7 linked regions of the Homo sapiens genome follow. The protein of the gene in region 1 purifies or fractionates together with the protein of each later gene. This does not show direct contact. Each region holds a gene or a part of one and is shown in the gene's direction. Other genes may lie near its edges. The genes, in order: PUDP, TANGO6, SHKBP1, HAUS5, PALD1, ASCC3 and SAV1.

Region 1 (3,500 bases):
TAATTTTGATACTAGGTCCTCAAAATCTGTGTGTGTTTTATACATACAACACATCTTAGTTTGAACTAGCCTCATTTCAGGCACTCTGTAGCCTCATTTGGTGGGTGGCTACTGGCTTGGACAGCATGGGTCTAGGTCTTTGTGGAGCAACCCAAGATGTCTGTTGATAATGGCTATGCTGGGAGGGTCAGGCAGAGGGTGGGTGTTAAGAATATTCAGAATTAGGAGTTTTGGTGTATGTAAAATGTGGTATGTGTAAAATGTGTTTTCTTGGAGTCTAATACAGAATTATTTAAAATCCTTTTAAAATCAAAGGAAAATAAGCTTATTTCCAGTTTCTTAAATATCGTAAAATAATAAGGTAGATCTGCGAAGGGTAATAAGAACATTTGCAGTGTTGACCATAATATACCATATCTTTATAAATCCAGATTGCAGGATTTTAATGAGTGACTTCTACTTCACCTTTAGTAAAATGAAGACCTCTTCTGTGCCTTTTTGCACTCCCGTAGCTTCCTCCTTGCCAAATAATAGCACTTGAGACTATAAGTGCCTGCCTCACTGTCTGGGGCCCAGGAGACCCTAAAAGGTCATGGAGGTAGGGTCTCTGTGGGGATTACCAAGCCCAGTACTGATGGGATTGTGGGCTGCCTGAGACAGTTGACAGTCATGTCCACTGTGTGGCCAAAATTCCACAGACATAGCGTGAGTGTGTTTTGCGCTGTCATTCTTTGTTAACTTCATGTAGGCTGTTTCTTTAGACACCAGAACATCTATATAGCTGATGACAAAAATAGATTTTTCTTACGTAATATTAGCGCATGCCCTAGGTGGATTGTCAGAAGAATCTATGTATGTTGTCATTTGACCCCATGAAATACGTCTGAGGTTTAAAAGTGCAGCTGACAAGCTTTTCAGCCTCAGTCGGTTCTTACTACTTGATGTTATCAAGTCATTCATTCCAAGTGGGATTTCTAAGAGTTTTGGCACATTTCTGAGGAAGGTGGAGCAAAGTGAAGGATCATTCTGCATGCTTCCATAGGTGGTTATTGTTTAACCCCAGAACGTGCAGTGATCCTAGTTGGAATGAGATCGTAATCACAATCTCCCCTCCTTCCATCATTTGTAATGGGTCTTGCTCTGGATGTCAAAGCAACTCTGGTGGTAGGTTCACATTCTTTCTTTGCCCTGTCTTCCCTGGAGGCTGACAGTGTACCCTTGGGTTTTACCCTTGCTAGGTGAAATGTAGGTTCTCTTCCACGTTTGCAAAGGAGATGGCTGAGGGTGGAGGCCAGTGTGAGGGCTTGGGACAGAGATGAACCCTTATCTCAGGGGCCATGATTGGCCTTTCACTACAGGGTGATCAATGAGTAATCTGTTGTTTCTGGAAACTGAAAAGGCTTCTGGAATATAGAAAGCACAAGACACGTGTGTTCCTATTAAGGGTCCGAAGAGATTTAGAGTAAGATGCTATATTGTATGTTGGAGAAACAGCATCAGATTATAGATTTAGCTCCGTTTGGTTCTGTTTTCTAATTGACCTGAACCATGCCAACCTTAAGTTCTTGTAGTAAGTGGTTGGTTGTCCACTGCAGCTGTTTCTGTTTCTAGAATAATTGAGAAGGGGGTAAAACTTAAATTGCAAAATTCTGCAGATAAATAATAAGAGTTTTGTCCAGCTGGCAACACAAATATTCAGCAGATTCTAGGCATGCAGGTGTAAAATATCCTTTTCTTTTTTCTAGCTCTCTCTTTCAAATAAAAGCAATATGGTTTTATTTAGAATCTTTAAGTAAACTGGATACAGGCATGTGTGAGAACTATTGTGGGTTCAGTTCCAGACCATCACAGTAAAGCAAACATCGCAATAAAATTAGTCACATGAAGTTTTTGGTTTCCCAGTACACATAAGGTTAGGTTTATACTATACTGTATTCTATTAGGTGTACAATAGCATTATGTCTAAAAAATGTACATAACCTTAAATACATTTTATTGCTTTAAAAAAAAAAGTGCTAGGGATCATGTCATCCTTCAGTGAGTTGTAATTCTTTTGCTGGTGGAAGGTGTTGTCTTGATATTGACTGTTGACCAGAGTAGTGGTTGCTGAAGGTTGGGGTGGCTGTGGCAATTTTAAAAAATAAAACAGCAATGAAGTTTGCCACATCACTTGATTCTTTCTTTTACAAAAAAATTCTCTTTTGGCGAGGCATGGTGGCTCATGCCTATAATCCCAGCACTTTGGGAGGCAGAGGCAGGCAGATCACTTGAGGTCAGGAGTTCGAGACCAGTCTGGCCAACATGGCAAAACCCCATCTCTACCAAAAATACACACACAAAAATTAGCCAGGCATGATGGTGCACACATGTAGTCCCAGCTACTCAGGAGGCTGAGGCCCGAGAATCACTTGAACCCGGGAGGCTGAGGTTGCAGTGAGCCGAGATCCCACCACTGCACTCCAGCCTGGACGACAGAGTAAGACTCTGTCTCAAAAAAAAAAAAAAAAAAAAATTGGAGTCCTCTCAAACTCTGCTGCTGCTGCTTTACCAACTAAGTTTATGTTAATATAGTGAATCCTTTGTTGTCACTTCAACAATGTTCAACAACATCTTCACCAGAAATAGATTTTTATCTCCAGAAACCACTTTCTTTTCGCGTCCCTAAGAAGCAGTGTCTATTCAGTTCAGGTTTCATCCTGAGATTGCAGCAACTCAGTCAAATCTTCAGGCTTCACTTCTAATTCTAGTTCTCTTGGTATTTCCATCACATTCTGCAGTTACTTCCTCTGCTGAAGTCTTGAACCCCTCAAAGTCATCCATGAGGATTGGAATCAACTCCTTACAAACTCCTGTTAACATTGATATTTTCATCTTTTCCCATGGATCATGAATGTTGTGAATGGCATCTGGAATGCTAAATCCTTTCCTGAAGGTTTTCCATTTACTTTGCCTAGATGCATCAGAGGAATCACTATCTATGGCATCTATAACCTTAGGAAATGCATATCCTAAGTAATAAGACTTGAAAGTTGAAGTTACTCCTCAATCCATGGGCTGCAGAGTAGATGTCGTGTTAGCAGGCCTGAAAATAACACGAATCTCCTTGTACATCTCCATCAGAGCTCTTGGGTGACCAGGTACGTTGTCAGTGGGCAGAAATATTTTGAAAGAAATATTTGTTTTTGAGCAGTAATTCTTAATAGTGGGCTTAAAATATTCGGTAAACCATGCTGTAAACAGATGTGCTGTCATCCAAGCTTTGCTGTTCCATTTACAAAGCCCAGGAAGAGAAGATTCAGCATCATTTTTAAGAGCACTAGGATTTTCAGAATTGTAAATGAGCACTGGCTTCAAGTTAAAGTCACCATCTGCATTAGCCACTAACACAAAAGTCCGCCTGTCCTTTAAAGCTTTCAAGCCAGACACTGACTTCTCCTCTCTAGCTATGAACGTCATGGGTGGCATTTTCTTCCAATAGAAGGCTGTTTTGTCTACATTGA
Region 2 (3,500 bases), on another chromosome or scaffold:
TGGCTCAATCTCCGCTCACCACAGCCTCCGCCTCCCAGGTTCAAGCGATTATCCTGCCTCAGCCTCCCAAGTAGCTGGGACTACAGGCATGTGCCACCAAGCCCGGCTAATTTTTGTATTTTTGGTAGAGATGGGGTTTCACTATGTTGACCAGTCTGGTCTCGAACTCCTGACCTCGTGATCCACCCACGTCAGCCTCCCAAAGTGCTGGGATTACAGGTGTGAGCCACTGCGTCCAGCCTCTAGCTGTTCTTTTATCCTATATTTTATATTTTTATATTTGTATTTCTTTTATCTGAGAATATTGGTTCCTAATGAAATTAATGTATTATATATGTGCATGTATACATACCCATACATATATAAATATATAATCACACATTATATAAAATGTGTAATCACACAATACATACTCATCCAGGTCTATAATCTTTTCAAAGAACAAATCCAACATTACCACTACAAACCCACTGTTTAAGGGGTTTTTGTTTGGTTTTTGTTCTCAGGATATACAAAATTCTTTATTTCAAGTCTCTTAAAATAATTTTCTGTGTGGTTATGCTGCTAACTTAATATAGAGTAGGAGTTAGTAAACTTTTTCTCTGAAGGACCAGATAGTAAATATTTTGAGCTTTGCGGCCCATATGGTCTCTGTTGTAACTACTCAACTCTGTCACTGTATCTCAAAAGCAGCCATAGACTATATGTAAATGGGCATAACTGTGTTCCAGTAAAACCTTATTCATGAAAACAGTTGGTGGGCCAGATTTGGACTGCAGATCATAGTTTGGTGACCTTTGACATAGAGCGCAGAATTTGGTTCATTGGTTCATTTGTTTGTTTTTCATTTTTAGGAATTGTTTTGCATTTTCTTTTTGATTTAATTTTTTTAACTATGAAAAACATCTGTTGTGCTCTAAAACTAATAAAATTAGATACAGTTATCCATGTTTCCTCCTCTGCTCTCTCCCTCTCTCTGTAGATGACTTATTTTAATTAGCTTTAAATTTATTCTTAAATTGCTTCTTTTTTGAAAAGACATGCAAATAATCTGTGATTTCCTATTCATTCCCATTTTTACACAAAAGGTAGCATACTATATATATTTTTTTCTGCGTCTTTTAATTTTAATTTTATTTTTATTTTTGAGATGGAGTCTCGCTCTGTCTCCCAGGCTGGAGTGCAGTGGCGCAATCTCGGCTCACTGCAACCTCCGTCTCCCAGGTTCAAGCGATTCTCCTGCCTCAGCCTCCCGAGTAACTGGGATTACAGGTGCCTGCCACCACACCTGGCTAATTTTTTTATTTTTAGTAGAGACAGGGTTTCACCATGTTGGTCAGGCTGGCCTCGAACTCCTGACCTTGTGATCCGCCCACCTCGGCCTCCCAAAGTGCTGGGATTACAGGCATGAGCCACCACGCCCGGCCTGCATCTTACTTTTTAAATTTAGTGTCTTAGCAATCGGTACATGATGGTACGTATAAATCTTCCGTTTTCTCTTTTATAGCTGCATAGTTTATTCAACCAGTTCTCTACTAGTGGACATTTGGGTTGTTTTCAAGTCTTTTGCTAATTTAAGAAGTACTGCAATGAATAGTCTTGTAAATACGTAATTTTGCATTGTTTGCCTGTGTATCTATAGGATAGATTCCTAAAAGTGGGATTGCTGGGCCAAAGGGAAATGCCTATGTAATTTTGCTAGATATTGCCAAATTTCTGTCCTTGGGGATGTACCATTTTAGTTCCTACCAACAATGTATGAGAGTGTGTGTTTCCTCACAGACTTGCTACAGAATGTGTTATAAAACTTTTGGATTTTAGCCAGTTCGATAGATGGAAAGTGATATTTCAGTATAACTTTAATTTACTTTTCTCTTATTATGAGCAAGATTGATCATATGTTCATGTTTAAGGGCCATTTGCATTTCTTTTCCTATAAACTGTCTGTATCTTTTGCTCATGTAATGTTTTATACTCTTTGTTCACATTCGAATATATTATGAACATGTCATTAAATAATGTTCAGCATTTAATGGCTACAAAATATTCCATTGTTTATTCATTCAACAACAATTTATTAAACAGCTTTTACTTGTCAGGCTTTGTTCCAGGCAAAGAGAATACAGCAGTGAACAAAACAAATCAATACCCCTGTTTTCTAGGTGCTTTGATTCTAGTTGGTAGAAAGACAATAAACAATAAACAAAATAAGTACTTCACATACATATAGTATGTTAGATAGAATTAGACCATAATTTACTCAACAAACACCTGTTATGGGACATGCATTTCTAATTTTACACTATTATAAATCATGCAGTATTGGACATAGTTATTATCAATTACATTTTGATTCCTTCTAATTTGTTTCTTACAAGGTATATTAGCTTTAGTTTTGAGGTCTGTTGCTTGTATTTATATTTTCAAAAAAAAAATTTAGTTTATTTGACCTGGCTGATGTCCATATATATTTTCAAAATTTTATTATGGTTTTCTAAACAAATAGAAAAGCTCGTGGCCAGGTGCAGTAGCTCATGCCTGTAATCCCAACACTTTGGGGAGGCTGAGGCGGGAGGATTGCTTGAGCCCAGGAGGTCAAGACCAGCCTGGGCAACATAGTGAGACCCCCACATCTCTACAAAAGATGAAAAAATTAGTCAGGTGGGGTGGTATGCAACTGTGGTCCCAGCTACTGGAGAGGCTGAGATGGGAGGACTGCTTGAGCCCAAGAATCAAAGGTACAGTGAATTGTGATTGCATCACTGCACCCCAGCCTGGGTGACAGAGCGAGACCCCCGTCTCAAAAAGAAAAAGAAAAAAAGAAAAGTTGAAAGAATTATATGGCGAACACCCTTATACACATCATTTAGATTCCACAATTCACATTTTATTATATTTGCTTGATCACATTTCTATCCATTTATCCATGCATCAACTCATGTTTTCTCTTTTTTTGATGCGTTCAAAGTAAGTTGCAGATATCAGTACATTTTAGCCATAAACACTTCAGCATTGTAACATTAACTAGAGTTTAATATTTATTTGGGTTTTTTGTAGTTCATTTGTTTTAGGTAAAATTTATATACAATGAAATGCACAAATAATACATACATCATTCAGTGAGTTTTAAAAATGCATGTACTTGGCTGAGGCATGAGAATCACTTGAACCCAGGAGACAGGGTTTGCAGTGATCTGAGATCACACCACTGCACTCTAGCCTGGGTGACAGAGCGAGACTCTGTCTAAAAAAAAAAAAAAAGCATATACTTTTGTCATTGAAACCCCTGTCAAGATACACATTGTTACTTCCAGGTGAGAAAAGGAAAAAAAAAAGAAACCTAAAGAAAAAACAGATATGCATCATTACTATTATCCCAGAAAGTTCCCTTCTGCCCTTTCACAATCATTTCCCACTCCTGCTCCCCTAGAGATAACTGGTTCTAGGTTTTTTAACCCGTAGATTAGTTTTGCCTATTCTAGAATTTAATATAAACAAGA
Region 3 (3,500 bases), on another chromosome or scaffold:
AATATAAAAGATTAGCCATGTGTCGTGGTGGGTGCTTGTAATCTCAGCTACTTGGGAGGCTGAGGCAGGAGAATCACTTGAACCCAGGAGGCAGAGGTTGCAGTGAGCCAAGATTGTGCCATTGCACTCCAGCCTGTGCAACGAGCGAAACTCCAACTCAAAAAAAAAAAAAAAAAAAAAAACGGAAAATTAGGTAATACTGCAGATTCATTAATATCACAGCAGCACTAAACTCAGTCTTCCTCTGTGCTGGGCTCAAGGGAACTGAAAGGGAAGTAACTTGCTATGTGGTTCAGTGTCATTTCATGCTGTGTCACTGCACCACTTAAAATCTTCACCCGGAGACTATGTCCCACACATGGGGAAATCAATCACCGTCATATTTTAAGTGCTTGCTGTGTGACAGCCACGATTACAATGACTGTTACTCTACCTCTTATTCTCACTGTAGTGTTCCCAGTGAAGCGGCGGAACCGGCACAGCCTAGTGGGGCCTCAGCAGCTAGGAGGACGGCCAGCCCCTGTCCGACGGAGCAACACGATGCCCCCCAACCTTGGCAATGCAGGGCTGCTGGGCCGAATGCTGGATGAGAAAACCCCTCCCTCACCCTCAGGTACGTTTCTATCTCGTGGAAGGTTGGGGCAGCTGTGGGGTCCCTGTGACCCTCTTCTGATCCCTACTCTTCCCCTCAAGGACAACCTGAGGAGCCGGGGATGGTGCGCCTGGTGTGTGGACACCATAATTGGATCGCTGTGGCCTATACCCAGTTTCTAGTCTGCTACAGGTGCTTGGGGAGGGAGTGGCAGGAGGTCCCAGCCCTGTTGATGGGAAGGGCATGCGGTGAGGGTTGGTGATGTCCCCTCGATCCTACAGGTTGAAGGAAGCCTCTGGCTGGCAGCTGGTGTTTTCCAGCCCCCGCCTGGACTGGCCCATCGAACGACTGGCGCTCACAGCCCGGGTGCATGGTGGGGCTTTGGGTGAACATGACAAGATGGTGGCAGCAGCCACCGGCAGCGAGATCCTGCTATGGGCTCTGCAGGCGGAAGGCGGTGGCTCCGAGATAGGTATGACCCCAAGCCTTTTCCAGAACCCTCTGTCCTTTAAATTCTACTGCCTGTTAAAATGACCCACCCCATAAAATCCTCAAACCCATAAGAATTCTCTGCTCTATTAGATCTGTTTGTGTCATTAGAATGCTCCAGCCCTTCAGAATTCTGTATCCTGTTAGAATTCCCTGGCTTCCTAGAAAAATCCACCCACATACAATTCTCCCTCCATCAGAATTCCCTGCCCTGTTAGATCTCTTGGTTTTGTTAGAATGCGCTATTCTGTGTGGCCATGAGAAATGTCTGACTTGGCCCGGTGCGGTGGCTCATGCTTGTAATCCCAGCACTTTGGGAGGCTGAGGCGGGCAGATCACTTGAGGTCAGGAGTTCGAGACCCCCTTGGCCAACAGGGTGAAACCCAGTCTTTATTTCAAAAATACAAAAAAATTAGCTGGGTGTGGTGGCACGTGCCTGTAATCCCAGCTACTCAGGAGGTTAAGGCAGGAGAATCACTGGAACCTGGGAGGCAGATGTTGCAGTGAGCTGAGATCGCACCACTGCATTCCAGCCTGAGCGACAGAGTGGACAGAGTGAGACACCATCTCAAAAAAAAAAAAAAAACAAAAAAAGAAATCTCTGACTTATGGCTGGGCACAGTAACTCACATCTGTAGTTCCAGCACTTTGGGAGGCCATGGCAGGAGGATTGCTTGAGGCCAGGAGTTCGAGGCTGCCGTGAGCTATGTAAGCCATGATTGCACCACTGCACTCCAGCCTGGACAACAGAGCAAGACCCTGTCTCAAAGCCACAGCAACAAATCTCGGACTTATTAATCTGTCCCCAAATAAATCTCAGCCCTCGTAAGAATCCCCTGCCACCAGTGGAGGTTTTTTTGCCTTATTGCAAATCTCAGTGCTGTTAGAATTCCAGACCGTTTTAGAATCCCATACCCCATCAGAAATCTTCTGGCCCATTTTATCTTCTCTAATTCCTGCTGGAATCTTCACTTTTTTTTTTTTTGAAATGGAGTCATTCTCTGTTGCCCAGATTGGAGTACAGTGGTATGATCTCGGCTCACTGCAACCTCTGCCTCCTGGGGTCACGCAATTCTCCTTCCTCAACCTCCCAAGTAGCTGGGGCTACAGTTGTGTGCTACCACACTCAGCTAATTTTTATATTTTTTAGTAGAGATGGAGTTTCATCATGTTGGCCAGGCTGGTCTCAAACTCCTGGCCTCAAATGATCCGCCCACCTGAGCCTCTCAAAGTGTTGGGATTACAGGTGTGAGCCACTGTGCCCAGCCCCTGATGGAATCTTCTATCCTTCAAGGATTCTGTGGTCCCACTGAACCCTCTGGTCCTTGGAGTTCTTCCTCCCACCTCTCCTCCTCCATGAGGCAGGGTTCCAGCTGAGCCCTTTTTGCCCACTGCAGGGGTCTTTCATCTGGGGGTGCCTGTGGAGGCCTTGTTCTTCGTCGGGAACCAGCTCATTGCTACAAGCCACACAGGGCGCATCGGGGTGTGGAATGCCGTCACCAAGCACTGGCAGGTCAGAGTTCTGGCCAGCCTGGCTGCCCCCTTCCCAGTTTTCCAGACTGTACAGACCCAGGAAGGGGTTCACGTCTGCCCCCACCCCCACCCCCTAAGCCTGGAGGAAGCCAGAGAACCAGCAGCTGGCCAGAGCCTGGGGATGTCTGTGATAAAGGCCTAAGGAGCACCAGGGAAGCCTTCCTGGAGGAGGTGCTGCAGAGCCCACATGAAGCATGAATGGGTTTGAAAAGGAGTAGGGAGGATTGTCTTGGGACTGGGTGAGAGAGCAGGTTAGGGGGGATGCTGTAGAAGACAAGAACTGGCTTGGCTCGGTGGCTCACACTTGTAATCCCAGCACTTTGGGAGGCTGAGGTGGGAGGATGGCTTTGGGAGAAAGACAGACAGAGGCAGAGAAAGAGACAGAGAGGCAGAAAACCAGGCAAATAGAAATAGAAAATCAGAAAGAGGTGACAGAGAAGGGTAGACAGAGTCAAACCAGACTGAACCACTGTGGCAGATGGGGGAACTCAGAGAGATAAATGGAGATGAATTAGAGTCATGTCAGAAGTACATAGTGGAGGCCGGGTGCAGTGACTCCCGCCCGTAATCCCAGCACTTTGGGAGGCCGAGGCAAGAGGATGGCTTGAGCCCAGGAGTTTGACGCCAGCCTGGGAAACATAATAAGACTCTGTCTCTACAAAAAATTTAAAAAATTAAAACTTTAAAAAGTACAGAGTCCAGGAGAGGCCAAGAGTCAGACAGACAGATGCATCAAAGGGAGGAAGGGAGGGAACAAGACAGGGACAAAGGCAGGCCTGGGGTGGACGGGGCTGGGGAGCAGTGGGTGGGTTCTGGAGGTGGAGGAGAGGGCCCATCCTCTGTGAGGGGTCACCACGGAAGGAAAGGAATGGAAGGGCTCCCGGCT
Region 4 (3,500 bases), on another chromosome or scaffold:
TCCAGCCTGGGTGACAGAGCAAGATGCTATCACTTAAAAAAAAAGAATGCTGTCACTTAAAAATTAAGAACTGGGCCTCCTAGGCAAGAGCCCAGGTGAGACTCCCAGGCAGAAGCAGGACCTAAGCAGAGAGGCACACTGAGGCTGGGAGCTGGGAGGAGTGGGTCTCAGGGTATCCTGGTTCCTCAGGAGGAGACCCAGGAACAGGTCCGCCTGCTCATCAAGGGAAACTCGGCCAGCAAGACCCGCCTGTGCCGGAGCCCGGGGGAGGTGAGATGGGAGTTGGGGTGAGGTCTGGGTAGGGCTGGATCTGCCAGGATGGGGCTGGGTGGACTTGTGATGTTGTGATGCCCCACCCACCCCTCCCCTTCCCCACAGGTGCTAGCTCTGGTCCAGCGAAAGGTGGTCCCTACATTTGAGGCAGTGGCACCACAGAGCCGGGAGCTGCTGCGCTGTCTGGAGGAGGAAGTCCGGCATTTGCCCCACATTCTGTTGGGCACGCTGCTGCGGCACAGGCCGGGAGAGTGAGACTGGGGCTGCCCCACCCCTGCCCTGCATCCCCTGCCATGGGTGACTGTCACTCCCTGAACCTCCTCAAAAAAGATAACCCCAGACCCCCAGTGTTCCCAGGCTGCCAGACCTCACCCTTGGGTCAGCAGCCCTGGTCTTGGCATCCTAGTCCCCAGACCCACCTTGAAGTTCCTGGGCCCCCAGAGCCTCCAGAACCCAAGGCCTCCTCTCAGTCCCCACCCAACCCAGACTTCTCCCCGCCCGTAGGTTGAAGCCCCTGCCCACGGTCCTCCCATCCATCCACCAGCTGCACCCCGCGTCCCCAAGGGGCTCCAGCTTCATAGCGCTGAGCCACAAGCTGGGGCTGCCTCCAGGGAAGGTGAGTGCCCGTCTCCTGTGACTTGTCTCCCCAGCCCCGCCCCAGGTGACCGTCCTTCCCTCCTCCTCCAGGCCTCGGAGCTGCTCCTGCCGGCGGCTGCCTCTCTTCGCCAGGACCTTCTGCTCCTGCAGGACCAGCGGAGCCTCTGGTGCTGGGATCTACTCCACATGAAGACCAGCCTGCCGCCAGGCCTTCCCACCCAGGGTAGGTCTGCCCTGCCACCCCATCCAGCCTCCCCGCCCATTCCCACTACCAGCAGCCTCCACGAGTCCTTACCAGCAACCCCGTTGTTTACGCAGTGCCCATTGTGTGCTAAGGGCTTTAAACATTCTCCCTTGTTTCATCTGCACGGCAGTCCCATAAGGTAAGTGCTGCTGTTCTCTCCATTCTACAGAGAAGGGAACTGAGACGCAGAGGTTAGTAGGTTGCCCAAATGGCAAAGCTGGAATTTGAATCCAGGTGGTCTGAAATGGGTCTGTGCTCCCAACCACTAAGCTACACTGCCGTCGACTTTCCACGTGTTCATTCATCACCGTCACATAGTATACCTCAGCAGTTCAAAGCCTGGGAATCCTCTCTGCCGTCTCTTCCTAGCTGTGTGGCCTCCCCGTGCCTTAGCTTCCTCCTCAGTGGAGTAAGCATGAAGCAATATCTTACCGAGGTGCTGGGCAGATTGAGGCAGGGGACCCACACAGGGCACTGAACACTGCCTGCTATGCAGTAAGCACCCTGTGTCTCCAATGTGATTAGCATCATTGTCTGTGTACACACACAGTCTCTTGGAGTCATGACGATGAGGAAAGGGACTTTTAAGAACCCCAGTTTACAGATGAGGAAACTGAAGGTTAGAGAAGTCATTCATTCCTGGATTCACTCACCAAATACTGGGTGTCTACCAGGTGCCAGCCCAGATGGCTTGATGGGGAGTGAGGAGAAAGGTCCCCACCCCAGGGGTTTCCCCAGATGGAAGTAAAGAGTAAAGAATGAAAGGATAAATACATGGAAGAGGAGAATTGATGAGAAATGAACCGGCAGTGCCAGCAGCACTGGAGGAAGAGACTGTTCAAGCCTCTGAGTTTGGGGCTCCCTGCCCTCCACTTCTTCACAAGGGGAGGGAACAGTGTGCAGGAGCAATGAGAGCAGCCCCAGACCCCACACGGCCTCTGCCCACCTCAGCCTCTGCCTACCACGCCCTCTGCCCACCTCATGTGTTTTTTGTTTTTGCTTTTGTTTTTTTGAGACAAGGTCTCATTCTGTCACTCAGGCTGGAGTGCAGTGGTGCCATCCTGGCTTACTGCAGCCTCAACCTCCTGGGCTCAAGCCATCCTCCTGCCTCAGCCTCCCGAGTAGCTGGGACCACAGGCATGCACCCCACACCCAGCTAATTTTATATTTCTTATAATCATGGGCATCTTGAACTGTACACATCTATCATGGAACTCCTGGTTCTCTCTACTCCAAAAAACAATTTTGTTCCTCTTCTTGGTTTCCTTCCTTGTTAAATTATCTCACCCTCCTCATCCAAGTGCTGCACCCAGAAACCCAGGAGTCATCCTGAATTTCTCCATCACCCTAATCCCCCCACCCTCACCAGCTTCAGCCTCTCAGCAAGCCCTAAGGGTCCCATCCCCAGAGTTCTCCCATCGGTCCCCTGCCCCAGTAATTCCACCTGACAGCAGACGGAGCTGAACAAAGAGCCAGTGTCGTGATCAAGGTCACAGGGCAGGGATGGGATGGGGTCAGGATTCAGGCCCAGCTTGTCTGATCACGCTGCTCGTCTGCACTTGCTGAGCTGGGCCTGTTCTGTGCACATGGAGAGGTAGGCCCAGTCCCAGTCCCAGAGGAAAGCACCGCTAGGGTGAAGCTAGAGCAGGCGGAGGAGGAAGCCTTGGAGCGAGAGTGTTGGAGGGGCCTCCAGGAGGAAAGATACTCTCTACTGTGGGCCCTGGGAATCGGCCAGGCTTTGCCACATCATGAAACTCAAATACCTGCTGAAGGGCTTGGACTCTGCCTTGGGGGCACTGGAGAACCTTGGAGGGTTCTAGACAGGAGGGAGAGCATCAAATTTAGGCTTCAGGAAGATCACTGTGGTGTAGTGCGGAGGGTGAACCAGAGCAGGAGACTGAGGCCTGGAGCAGAGGAGAGGAAGAAACGCTCAGGAGACTGAGCGGACAGGCCATGGAGATTGATGGGCTCTCACGGGGAGGGAGGAAGGCATCCAGAAGGAGGCCTGGATGGGGCTGGGGGTGGTGGACTGCCCTTGAGATGAGGATCTGGGAGGAGGGACAGGTCCTCATCTCAAGGGCAGTCCCTCAGAAGGGGACTTCCAGGCTGGGAAGAGAAGGAGACAGACTCATCATTGGTTTGCGGGAGCTGCTGAGGTCAAGACTAGGGGACTGGAGAATTGGGGACTCATTGCTGTAAGGTACCAGCGAGCCAGAGGACTCAAAGCTGCCTCCTGGCTTTCTCACCCTCAGAGCTGCTGCAGATCCAGGCATCCCAGGAAAAACAGCAGAAAGAGAACCTGGGGCAGGCTCTGAAGAGGCTGGAGAAGCTACTGAAACAGGCACTGGAGCGAATCCCTGAGCTGCAGGGGATCGTGGGGGACTGG
Region 5 (3,500 bases), on another chromosome or scaffold:
TTAGAGATTTGCCTGGAGGAGGGTAGACACTCAGGTCCCAGGCACACTGGCTCCACAGGAGGGTGTGAGGGGCAGAGACAGCCGGGTGTGGTCCCAGAGCCCCTTCCATCAGTCTTGGGCAGCCCCCAAGTCCTCCCCAGCAAGGGGCTCCTGGCGTTGGGAGGGGGCTTCTGTCTCAGCAGCTGTCTTCCCTCAGGGCTTCCCCGAGGTGGGTGAGGAGGAGCTCGTGAGTGTGCCTGATGCCAAGTTCACTAAGGGTGAATTTCAGGTGAGCATGCCCTGCGGGGTCCCTGAGGCACCTTGGGATGGGAGGAGGAGGAGGACTCCTGCTTGCCGGTCTAGGGGTCCTCAAAGCACGTCCCAATGCAGTCACGTCTGCCACCTCATCATATCAGTGCTTCCCTGTTCCCATTTTATAGATGAGCCCAGCAAGGCATGGGACAGCTTGGCTCTGAGGCCCTGGCAGACGGCCGGCTATGGAGATGTGGGCTGGACCCCTCCCTGCCCGGCCTTGCTGTTGGGCTGCTGTGTGCCTTGGGGAGGTCACTGGCCACCGTCTTGTCTGGGTAATGTTGATAACAACCTCCCAGCACCTTCAACCCAGCTGTGGTTGGTGACCTTGTGTGGGTCCCCAGCCTACTTTGCCCTGCCTGTTCCTCTATTTCAGATTAGGGCACTGGATGGCCAGCCACAAACATTCCAGATTTAGTCATCCATGTATTGTGCACCTGCCACATGCCACAGGCCATCTTCTCAGGCATCCCGAGAGTCGTGGCAACGTCCCTCGGAGTTGGCCCATGGCTGACCCACAGTCAGCAGCACAGTTGGCTCGTGTCTTACTGGTTAACTTCGCCACTTGCCCCTCCCCTGCCCTCGCCCCAGTCCTGAGGCCCTGACCGCCATGCAGCACCTCACACTTGCTAAGCTCTTGCAGCCTTTGCATATGCGGTGCCTTCTCCCTTCCTTCTTCTGGCTGATTCTCTGATTCTTTCCTTTTTCCTTTTCTTTATGTGGTAAAATATGCATAACATAAAATGTACCATTTCAACCATTTTTAAATGTACAGTTCAGTGGTGTTAAGTACATTCACGTTGTTGTGCAACTGTTGCCACAACCCATCTAACTCCTTCATCTTGCAAAACAGAACTCTGCTCTCCTATTCAGTAATGATTCCCCATCCTCCCTCCCAGCAGCCCCTGTTCTACTTTCTGTCTCAATGGATGTGACTACTCTAGGAATCTTCTATGAGTGGAATCGTACAGTATTTGTGTTTTATGACTAGTTTATTTCACTGAGCATAATGTTCTCAAGGTTTACCCACATTGTAATATGTGTCAGAATTTCTTTCCTTTTAGAGGCTGAATAATATCCCATTGTATGGATAGACCACATTTTGTTTCTCCATTCCTCCATCAAGGGACACTATTTGCTTCCACCTTTTGGCTGTCATGAGTAATGCTGCTATGAAATGCATAGTGCACGTAGCTGAGTCCCTGCTTTCAGTTCTTTTGGGCATATACTCAGGAGTGGAATTGCTGGATCCTATCGTAATTCTGTTTACTTTTTTGAGGAACCACCATGCTGTTTGCCGCAGTATATGCACCATTTTACATTCCCACCAGCAACACACAAAGGTTCTGATATTTCCACATCCTCACCAACACTTGATTTCTTTTTTCTGTTTTTTTTAGAGATGGGAGTTCACCGTGTTGGCCAGGCTGGTCTCGAACTCCTGACCTCAGATGATCCACCCGCCTCGGCCTCCCAAAGTGCTGGGAGCCACTGTGCCCAGCCGTTTTTTTTTTTTTTTTTTGGATAATAGCCATCCTGCTGGGTATGAAGTGGTATATTGTGGCTTTGATTTGCATTTCTCTAATGATTAGTGATGTTCAATATCTTTTTATGTGTTTATTGGCCACTTGTATATCTTCTTTGGAGAAATGTCTGTTCAAGTCCTTTGTCCATTTTTGAATTGGATTGTTGTTGAGTTTTGGTTCTTTATATATTCTGGAAACTAATCACTTATAAGAGAGGTGATATGTAAATATGTTCTCTATTCTGTGGGCTGACTTTTTACTCATTGATAGTGTCATTTGATGCACAAAAGTTTTTAATTTTGATGTAGTTTGTCTGTTTTTTCTTTTGTTGCCTGTGCCCTTGGTGCTATATCCAAGAAATCATTGCCAACTCCAATGTCATGAAGCTTCTCCCTTGTGTTTTATCCTAAGACTTTTATAGTTTTTAACTCTTAGGTTTAGGTCTTTGATCCATTTTGAGTTAGTTTTTTTTATATGGTGTGAGGTGAGGGTTATCTAAGTTTATTCTTTTGCATGTGGATATCTGGTTTTTCCAGCACCGTTAGTTCAAGAGTCTGTCTTTCCCCATTGAAGGGTCTTGGCACCCTTGTTGAAAGCCAGTTGACCATATGTATAAGGGTTTTATTTTCCAGCTGAGTTTAGTCTTTGCATCGGTGCCTTGAATGTGATGGTCAGGCCTCTCCTTCTTCACACCAGGCCCCGTGCTGGGAGCTGTGTGTACTCCCTCTGTCCCCTTTCCCAGCTCCCAGGAGGTAGGTGCTTTTACTGCTCCCAGTTTATAGATGAGAAAATGAGGCCTGGGGAGACAAGTTTATTACCCTAGGGCCACATCAGAGAGGTGGGGCTGGGGTATAAGCCAGGCTGTAGACCTCAGAGCCTGTGTTCCAAAGTTACATCATATGACCTGAAGACACCCCTGTACACCCTATCCTCACCCACCCCCAGATAATCTAGACCAGCTTCCTTTGCAATTAGTTCAGCATTTGCTGAGCCCACAGTCTGTTGGGGAGAAAGGATCAATAGAGCGTGAAGAGGCCCAGAGCAGACACTGGTTCTAAGGGCCAAGAGTGCAGCTGAGGGAGCCTGAGAGGACTTCATAGAGGAGGCAGCATTTGAGTGCCTTTGGGGAAGATGAGTGAGTATCCTTGGTGAGGAGGGGAGTGTCTGGAGGGATCAAGTGTGCAAAGGAGGGATTCTGGAAAGGGCAGGAACTATGTAAGGCTGTGATTTGTCAGAAGGGAAGCAGGCAGGACTGAGGGGTGGGGGCCCATATTGTGAAGGCCCTGGAGGTTTGCACTATGTGTTTGACCTTGACCGTGAGGCCAGGAGGGAGGCAGAGGAGGTTGTGATCAGGCTCTCAGTCTGGGGGCCCCAGCAGGCAGTTATATGTGGACTGGGGAGTGGAGGGAGAGGCAGGAGCTGAGTGAGGAGGGGCTGCAGGGTGAGCAGGAGCAGCCCAGTCCTCATTGGTAGGTCTTGAGGGCTCCTGGATGTGGGGTGAGGAGGGCACCTAGGATGACCTCGAGTTTCTGGCTTTGCAGTAGTGACAGCTGTCGATGTGGAATTCAGGGGAGGAACAGCTGCAGCAGAGGCCAGGAGTTGGGTTCCCTGTGAAGAGCTGCAGCCCTCTGTCTGAGGTGGCCCCCAGAGGACGCAGTTCCCTGCACCCTCCTGGGGACCTGC
Region 6 (3,500 bases), on another chromosome or scaffold:
ATGCTGCATTATAGTAAATGGAAACTCTTTAAAAACATGCAATGTATTTAATTTCAATGTGAAAAATTTAAATAAATCAGCCCCAAAATTCCAATAAATACATTGATTCTTCTAGGTCAGAGAAGAGGAAATAGAGGAGTTAGATACCTTATTAAGCAATTTTTGTGAACTCTCCACTCCTGGAGGTGTAGAGAATAGTTATGGGAAAATAAACATCTTACTTCAAACTTATATCAGCCGAGGAGAAATGGACAGTTTCTCCCTTATATCAGATTCTGCATATGTTGCACAGGTAAGTATCTTATTCCCTTCCAGTTTTCTCTTCCTTGAATATATTTAGAGGACCAAGGTGTTAATTCATGCTGTGCTATGAATGCATTGCTTTGTGACATGCTACCAAACCACCATTTTACTTAGAACTGTTTCTGCTAATTTGTAAATATTTTATGTAATCTATGCTCATAAAACAGGACTGGGGATGAGATTTGGTGACTGATAGGGCTTTTTTTGGTGATGTTGATGTTTCTTACAAAGTTTTAAAATGATACCTGATTTTTTTCTACTTTAAATGATGAATTTCATTTCTTTTACTTATAAAGTAAAAGAATATAAAGTACTTATAAAGAGAAAAGTTAAAGAATATTGCAAGCATAAAGAAAAGATTGTGGAACTTTTTTAGATTTTTACCAAATATTAGAAATAATAATATTTTTAATCATTAAACAAGGCGTAGTAAACATATTTCCTACCATACGTTCAGTGTGATGTCTCTGGTTTTTACAAAAGTAATCTCTCCTCTCTACTGTTGAAACTTAAACATTGAGGACAGAAAGAAAATTATTCCCTAAACTACAGCTCATTTAATTTATAACTTTTAAAAAATACCATGGTATAAACTGTTCAAATATTTGTGTTTTTATATTCAAGCCCTTATGTGAAGTAAAGTAGGTTATATTTTACCCTATTTATCCTTCAAATGAAAGATTTCCCTTCTAGACATACTTTTTTAAAAAAATTATTTACCTGTCAAGGCTTTTTAATTTTATTTTATTGAGTACTTCCTTTTATAAATTAAGAAGAAATTAAAGCTTAATTTTATTTTAAATATGGAAATGATTCTGCTGTTATATTTGTAATTTTGTTCAAAGAAAGACTAAATATAGAAAAAGAATGTTTGTGTTAAATATATCATTATTAATAGCCATGAGTACTCAGGAGTCCTTTAAACATGGAATATTTACAAACACAAACCAAGACATATTGGTAAACATTTTGAATGCATGTAGTAATTTAATCAATGTAACCAAGATACCAGGTTATATAATTCATAAATTATATAAAGTTAATATAGATGTAGTGAAAATATTTATATATTCTTTAAACCCTATAGCTTCTATAGGAATAATTTTCTAATCTCCTTTGTTTTATCTGTTTTTCTGTAAAGTAATGTAATATTGTCATTTTATATTTTCTAATGATTTTATATTGAAATAGTTAATCATTTAAATAAAAGGTAAAGTTTTACTGGGTTCTGGATGAATAATCTGGCAACATTTCTGCTTGCTTCAAGATTATGAAGATATTATCAGAGACTGACATAAGAATTGCTTACAATGTAAAACTTTAATTCTCTTCATGATTGGTATCCAGGAAGTCAACTTCTGATTAAGGATATCTCAAAGCATCCCTGTTTTTTCTTAAACAGCCATTATGGATTTAGCATCCCTGAATGCATCAGATAAATTATACTTTATTACATTTTAAGTTTAAGCTATCAGTAATTGAACAACTACTCTCTCAACTCTGTAAAATGATATTTTCTTCTATATTTTTTAAACTTTCTCTCCTCAGCCCCTAAGGTAAACCTATAGCTCAAATATTCTAGGATTTTATTTAAAGGCCTATGCTTAACTTTTCTAGACTGTACATGTTATAGACTTATTATTTTGAACCAATTTATATCATTCTAGATTAACATGTCCTGTTTGTATCTTGTCATATGGAATTTCTCCTACTTCTTTTAGCATTGAGGGGATAACTGTAGATCCTGAAATATTAAAATGACATACTTTCAAAGGCAGGAAAATTAGCCTGATAGTTTTTTGTAAGAACAAGTGGGAATGAGGTAGGAAAACCTATTTGGTAGATACAGTAATCAAAATTTTATTTATTATTCTCTGGGCCTTATAAAGACCCATTCAGTCATTTTTAATGGATATCAGAACTGTCCTCATACTTCTATCTACCATTTTGTACTTTAATTTCTAATACTGAAACAAAATAGTCAAATTTATCAAAAGACAGCGCATATCTTATATAAAATGTGAAATGAAAGCCTTTAACTCATCTGTCATTTTTGACTTCATAATTTTAGGCTGGATTGTTTGTCTGCCATTTGAAATCTTTTCAGTTTTGTATCTCTTGTTTGGATTTTAACCAGACTGAACATTCTTTATTTTCAAATACAGATGTTACTGGATTTTGGAAGGTATAAGTTCATTTAAAAAACAATCTTTAATAAAACAATCTGCAAAGTTAATGATAGAGGAGTGGAGGCAAAATAAATGGGAGCTAGCTGTAGAAATGTGAAGAAAAAGACTACATTCATTATAACTTTCTATATGTCTATTAATAAAGTTATCCTCAGACCACTGAGTCTAGAATCTCAGTTATATTTGGAGTCCTTTAGTCCTGGCTTTGAGTAGATGCTCTGACACCAACTAGCAGTGTGACCTTGGTCAAATTTTTTACCTCTTTAAGCCCTAGTATATTCATCTATAAAATCATAATATTAATATCAATTAAATGCAATTTTTGTAAAAGTTAAATGAGGCAATATATGTAAAGCAAGTTAACACATTGTTTGGTTTATAGGAAGCCATTTGTATGGCCCTTTCATATGAGTAGCTACACTAATCAGTATTTCATTTGTCACCCTTCTCTCATTATTTTTTTTCCCTATCAGGATCCCAGTCTTCCTTAATCCTCTAAATAGCCTTGTAAATTTAATCATTCCACTATTCACCAAGAGGCGTCCTTGTCTCTTATAGTCAGATGCCTTAACAGCCTCCTAAATATTTTGCATGCCTTTTGTCTCTTCCTACTTCATTCCTGTTTAGAAGGTAGAGCTTTCTAAGAACTTGGAAATAAGGCTTCCCCTCTGAGAGTAAGCAAGTAGCATCCACATATAAAGGATAGGATTATTCTTATGTAGAAATAATAAGATAATTAGGATTATATGAGAAAAGATATTGCCCCACAATTCAAGGATGCAGCTTGACTTGCACTTCTTTTCAGACTGAGTTTGAATAATAGATTTATTGACAAATTTAAAAGCACATTGGGTATAACCACCAATCTCCTCCTATAATTTTTTAGAATGCAGCTAGAATTGTCCGTGCTCTTTTTGAAATTGCTCTGAGGAAACGTTGGCCTACCATGACCTACAGGCTCCTGAATCTTAGTAAAGTCATTGACAAGAGGCTTTGGGGTTGGGCTAG
Region 7 (3,500 bases), on another chromosome or scaffold:
TATAGAAAGACACATAGACCAATGGAACAAAAATAGGTAATGCAGAAATAAATCCACATATTTACAGCCAACTGATTTTTTTACAAAAGCACCAAGAACGTGCATTGGGAAAAGGACACTTTCTTCAATAAACGATGCTGGGAAAATTGGATATCCACATGCAGAAGAATGAAATCTGACCCTTGTCTCACCATATGCAAATTCAACTTGAGATGGATTAAAGACTTAAGACCTGAAATTATAAAAGTACTAGAAGAAAATGTAGGGGAAACACTTCAGGACATCGATCTAACAAAGATTTTATGGCTAAGACCTCAAAAGCACAGGCAACAAAAACAAATAGACATATGGGACTATATTAAACCAAAAGGCGTCTGCACAGTAAAGGAAACAACAGAATGAAGAGACAACATATTGAATAGGAGAAAGTGTTTGCAAAAGATTCATCCAGCAAGGGACTAATATCCAGAATATGCAAGGAAGCCAACAGTAAGAAAAACAACCCCATTAAAAAGTGGGCAAAGGACATGAATAGACGTTTCTCAAAAGAAGACATACAAATGGCCAAAAGGTATGTGAAAAAATGTGCAACATCACTAATCGTCAAGGAAATGTAAGTGAAAACCACAGTGAGGTGTCTTACCCCAGTCAGAATGGCTATTGTTAAAAAGACAAAAAAATATACTACTGGTGAGAGTGTGAAGAAAAGGCAACTGTTACAGACTGTTGGTGGGAATGTTACAATAATTAGGACAGGCACTATGAAAAACAGTTTGGAAATTTCTCAGAAAACCGAAAACAGAACTACCATATGATCCGGCAGTTCCACTGCTGGGTATCTATCTAAAGGAAAAGAAATCAGTATATCAAAGAAATACCTGCACTCCCATGTTTATCATGTCATTTGCAGCAGCTTGAATGGAACTGGAGGTCATTATATTAAGGGAAATCAGGCACAGAAAGAGAAGTGTCTCATGTTCTTACTCACATGTGGGAGCGAAACACATTGATTTCATGGAGATAGAATGATAGCAGAGGTTGGGAAGGATGGGAGGGGAGGTAAAGAGAGGTAGGTTAATGGGTCCAAACATAAAGTTAGATGGAATAAGTTCTAAGGTTTGATAGCAGAGTAGGGTAACTACAGTTAACATTTTGAAATAGCTAAAAGAGAGGACTTGAAATGTTCCCAACACATAGAAATGATAAATACTCACGGTGATGGATACCCTAAATACCCTGACTTGATTATTTCATACTCTTTGCATGTATCACAATATCACATGTACCCCATAAACATGTGCAAATAATTATGTATCCAAAAAATGCTATAAAACAATGTTACCACCTGACTGGGCTCTTGTCTGCTATCCGAATAGAGCAGAACACTGAGACAGCAGATACTGTAAAGAAGAAAGAGTTTAATTATTGCAAGGCAGCTGAGTAAGGAGGATGGGAAATGTTTCTCAGAGTCATCACCGCCAAGACTGGAGAAGCTAAGATATTTAAAGATGATTTGGCAGGCAGGGGGCTAGGGGATGGGTGCTGGTGATTGGACTGGTATGAGATCATAGGGTTATCAATGCTGTCTTCATGTGCTGAATCAGTTGCTGGGAAATTGGGGAGTCACAAGACCAAGTCAGTTCCTTGGTTGAGTTCATGGAACACTGGTCCATTTGGTGTCAGTTGGTCCACTTGTAAGCAAAGTCTGAAAAATATCTCGAAGACCAGTCTTAGGTTTTACAGTAGTGTTTGTGACTGCCAGTTACTATGGAAAGAAAGCTGGGAAAAAATGGCAGGTTACTGTTTAAACCTATAGCTTAGCAGAAGAGTTTGCAGGAGGTGAGATCACCAGTGATCAAAGTGGCCTGGCCTGTTTGGCCAGTCCAAATTCTGGAAACTATCAAGGGGGTCTGTGTGATCTAGGATCATTGTTTTCTTGTTCTTCTCTTCTATTTTCTTTTTTGAGACAGGATCTTGCTCTGTTGCCCGGGCTGTAGTGCAGTAGCATGATCACAGCTCACTGCAGCCTCGACCTCGGGCTCAAGCAATCCTCCCACCTCAGCCTCCTGAGTAGCTGGGACTACAGGCATGCACCACCACACCTGGCTAATTTTTTGTATTTTTAGTAGAGACTGAATTTCAGTGTTGCCCAGGCTGGTCAAACTCCCAAGCTCAAGCAATCTGCCTGCCTTGGCCTCCCAAAGTGCTGGGATTACAGGCATGTGCCGCAGCACCCAGTCTGGATTATTGTTCTTTAAAAGAAACAGGTTTGTTAATCTTATGGGCAGCCTGCCCAGGGGCTGCCACAGGAAGACAATTATTAGTGACTGCCATTTGTTGAAATGACTTTGCAAGCAGTCATACATGGAGGTGGAAAAAGAGAAGGAAAATATTTTATCAAAATTCGGGCCCCTACCGTAATTTTAATCTTGAGGGTGTTTTTAATTTTATGAGGGAGGCTTCAGCAGGAGTCAGCAAGCTACACCCATAGGCCAGATAGACTTGCCTCCTGCAATACAGTAGTTTTATTGGAACACACATGCACTGAAATAAGATTTGATTTCATGGAATAGCCAAGACCTTGTTTTAATGAGACAGTAGACTTCTGCCTTCGAAGTCTCATCCCAGGCTCTTTTATATCAGATTGCGTTAGGTTTAAAGAAGGTTGCAGGTAGTTGAAGAATCTCAGGTAATAAGGTATCTCTCCCAACCAAAAAAAAAAAAAAAAAAAAATTCTTTACAGCAGTTGATACACTGCTTGAGAGCTTGAGAGACTTCATTTGATAAGATTAATTTTTATCAGGGCAATATAGATTTAATGTTTTACCTTGTAGAAAAAAGTAGTACTTTTTTTGAAGGAATCTCTAAAGTTGCAGGGAAAGATTAATAACCAATTACATGCCAAACAGAAAAGCCTAATAACTGCCTCTTCCACAAGGGAAAAATCTGAATATGAGACAGTAGCTGAAAGTTTCTTGAATTCACCTTGAGAAGACTTAAAACATATTTTTAGGATTTATGCTGAATAAGGTTCAAGGAATTTGAATGAATAGAAAGGAGAAAGTAAGTTTGTAGGAGGATAGGATAGGTTTGTGCGATAGATCTATTTTCAGAAACATTGAATTTTGATTGTCATAAGCATAAAAAGGTTGGAAAATTTGTTTTGTAATGACTTAATGGCAATAGTAATTCCTGTCAATTAGTTATTAGATTTTCAGGAAACACCTTGTGTCAAGGGTTAAATTCAGCTTATTGTATTTAGTAGAAGCACAAAAACAAGTTGTATAATCTCAGAAAGTTTTAGAGCCTAGAAAGTTCTACGTTTAGCTGTAGAACTTTCAGATTAGAAAATTTGACCTTTAATGTTCTTGGCCGCATACCAGTCACGCACTTACTGTATGTTCCAAAGAAAGGAATCCTGCTGTTAACAGGAAGTCTTTAGTTGGAATACTAAAGGCAGACTGAATTCCTTTGTTTTGCGCTTAAATTTTAGTTCTGTC

What was found.
Region 2: the proteins of PUDP (region 1) and TANGO6 purify together in Homo sapiens (affinity purification with mass spectrometry; one large-scale study listed by BioGRID and IntAct). This does not show direct contact.
Region 3: the proteins of PUDP (region 1) and SHKBP1 purify together in Homo sapiens (affinity purification with mass spectrometry; one large-scale study listed by BioGRID and IntAct). This does not show direct contact.
Region 4: the proteins of PUDP (region 1) and HAUS5 purify together in Homo sapiens (affinity purification with mass spectrometry; one large-scale study listed by BioGRID and IntAct). This does not show direct contact.
Region 5: the proteins of PUDP (region 1) and PALD1 purify together in Homo sapiens (affinity purification with mass spectrometry; one large-scale study listed by BioGRID and IntAct). This does not show direct contact.
Region 6: the proteins of PUDP (region 1) and ASCC3 purify together in Homo sapiens (affinity purification with mass spectrometry; one large-scale study listed by BioGRID and IntAct). This does not show direct contact.
Region 7: the proteins of PUDP (region 1) and SAV1 purify together in Homo sapiens (affinity purification with mass spectrometry; one large-scale study listed by BioGRID and IntAct). This does not show direct contact.

What each region holds. Positions count from the first base shown.
Region 1 is NC_000023.11:7,141,654-7,145,153, reverse strand, and holds part of PUDP (pseudouridine-5'-phosphatase), read left to right. Parts: intron 1-3,500. UniProt on the Homo sapiens protein: Dephosphorylates pseudouridine 5'-phosphate, a potential intermediate in rRNA degradation. Pseudouridine is then excreted intact in urine.
Region 2 is NC_000016.10:68,850,031-68,853,530, forward strand, and holds part of TANGO6 (transport and Golgi organization protein 6 homolog), read left to right. Parts: intron 1-3,500.
Region 3 is NC_000019.10:40,579,873-40,583,372, forward strand, and holds part of SHKBP1 (SH3KBP1-binding protein 1), read left to right. Parts: intron 1-451; coding exon 452-613; intron 614-693; coding exon 694-784; intron 785-873; coding exon 874-1,064; intron 1,065-2,478; coding exon 2,479-2,594; intron 2,595-3,500.
Region 4 is NC_000019.10:35,619,235-35,622,734, forward strand, and holds part of HAUS5 (HAUS augmin-like complex subunit 5), read left to right. Parts: intron 1-189; coding exon 190-270; intron 271-378; coding exon 379-524; intron 525-777; coding exon 778-889; intron 890-960; coding exon 961-1,093; intron 1,094-1,188; coding exon of another isoform or gene 1,189-1,205; exon of another isoform or gene 1,206-1,253; intron 1,254-3,366; coding exon 3,367-3,499; intron 3,500-3,500.
Region 5 is NC_000010.11:70,541,267-70,544,766, forward strand, and holds part of PALD1 (paladin), read left to right. Parts: intron 1-196; coding exon 197-268; intron 269-3,500.
Region 6 is NC_000006.12:100,647,330-100,650,829, reverse strand, and holds part of ASCC3 (activating signal cointegrator 1 complex subunit 3), read left to right. Parts: intron 1-115; coding exon 116-292; intron 293-3,378; coding exon 3,379-3,500. UniProt on the Homo sapiens protein: ATPase involved both in DNA repair and rescue of stalled ribosomes. 3'-5' DNA helicase involved in repair of alkylated DNA: promotes DNA unwinding to generate single-stranded substrate needed for ALKBH3, enabling ALKBH3 to process alkylated N3-methylcytosine (3mC) within double-stranded regions.
Region 7 is NC_000014.9:50,658,307-50,661,806, reverse strand, and holds part of SAV1 (protein salvador homolog 1), read left to right. Parts: intron 1-3,500. UniProt on the Homo sapiens protein: Regulator of STK3/MST2 and STK4/MST1 in the Hippo signaling pathway which plays a pivotal role in organ size control and tumor suppression by restricting proliferation and promoting apoptosis.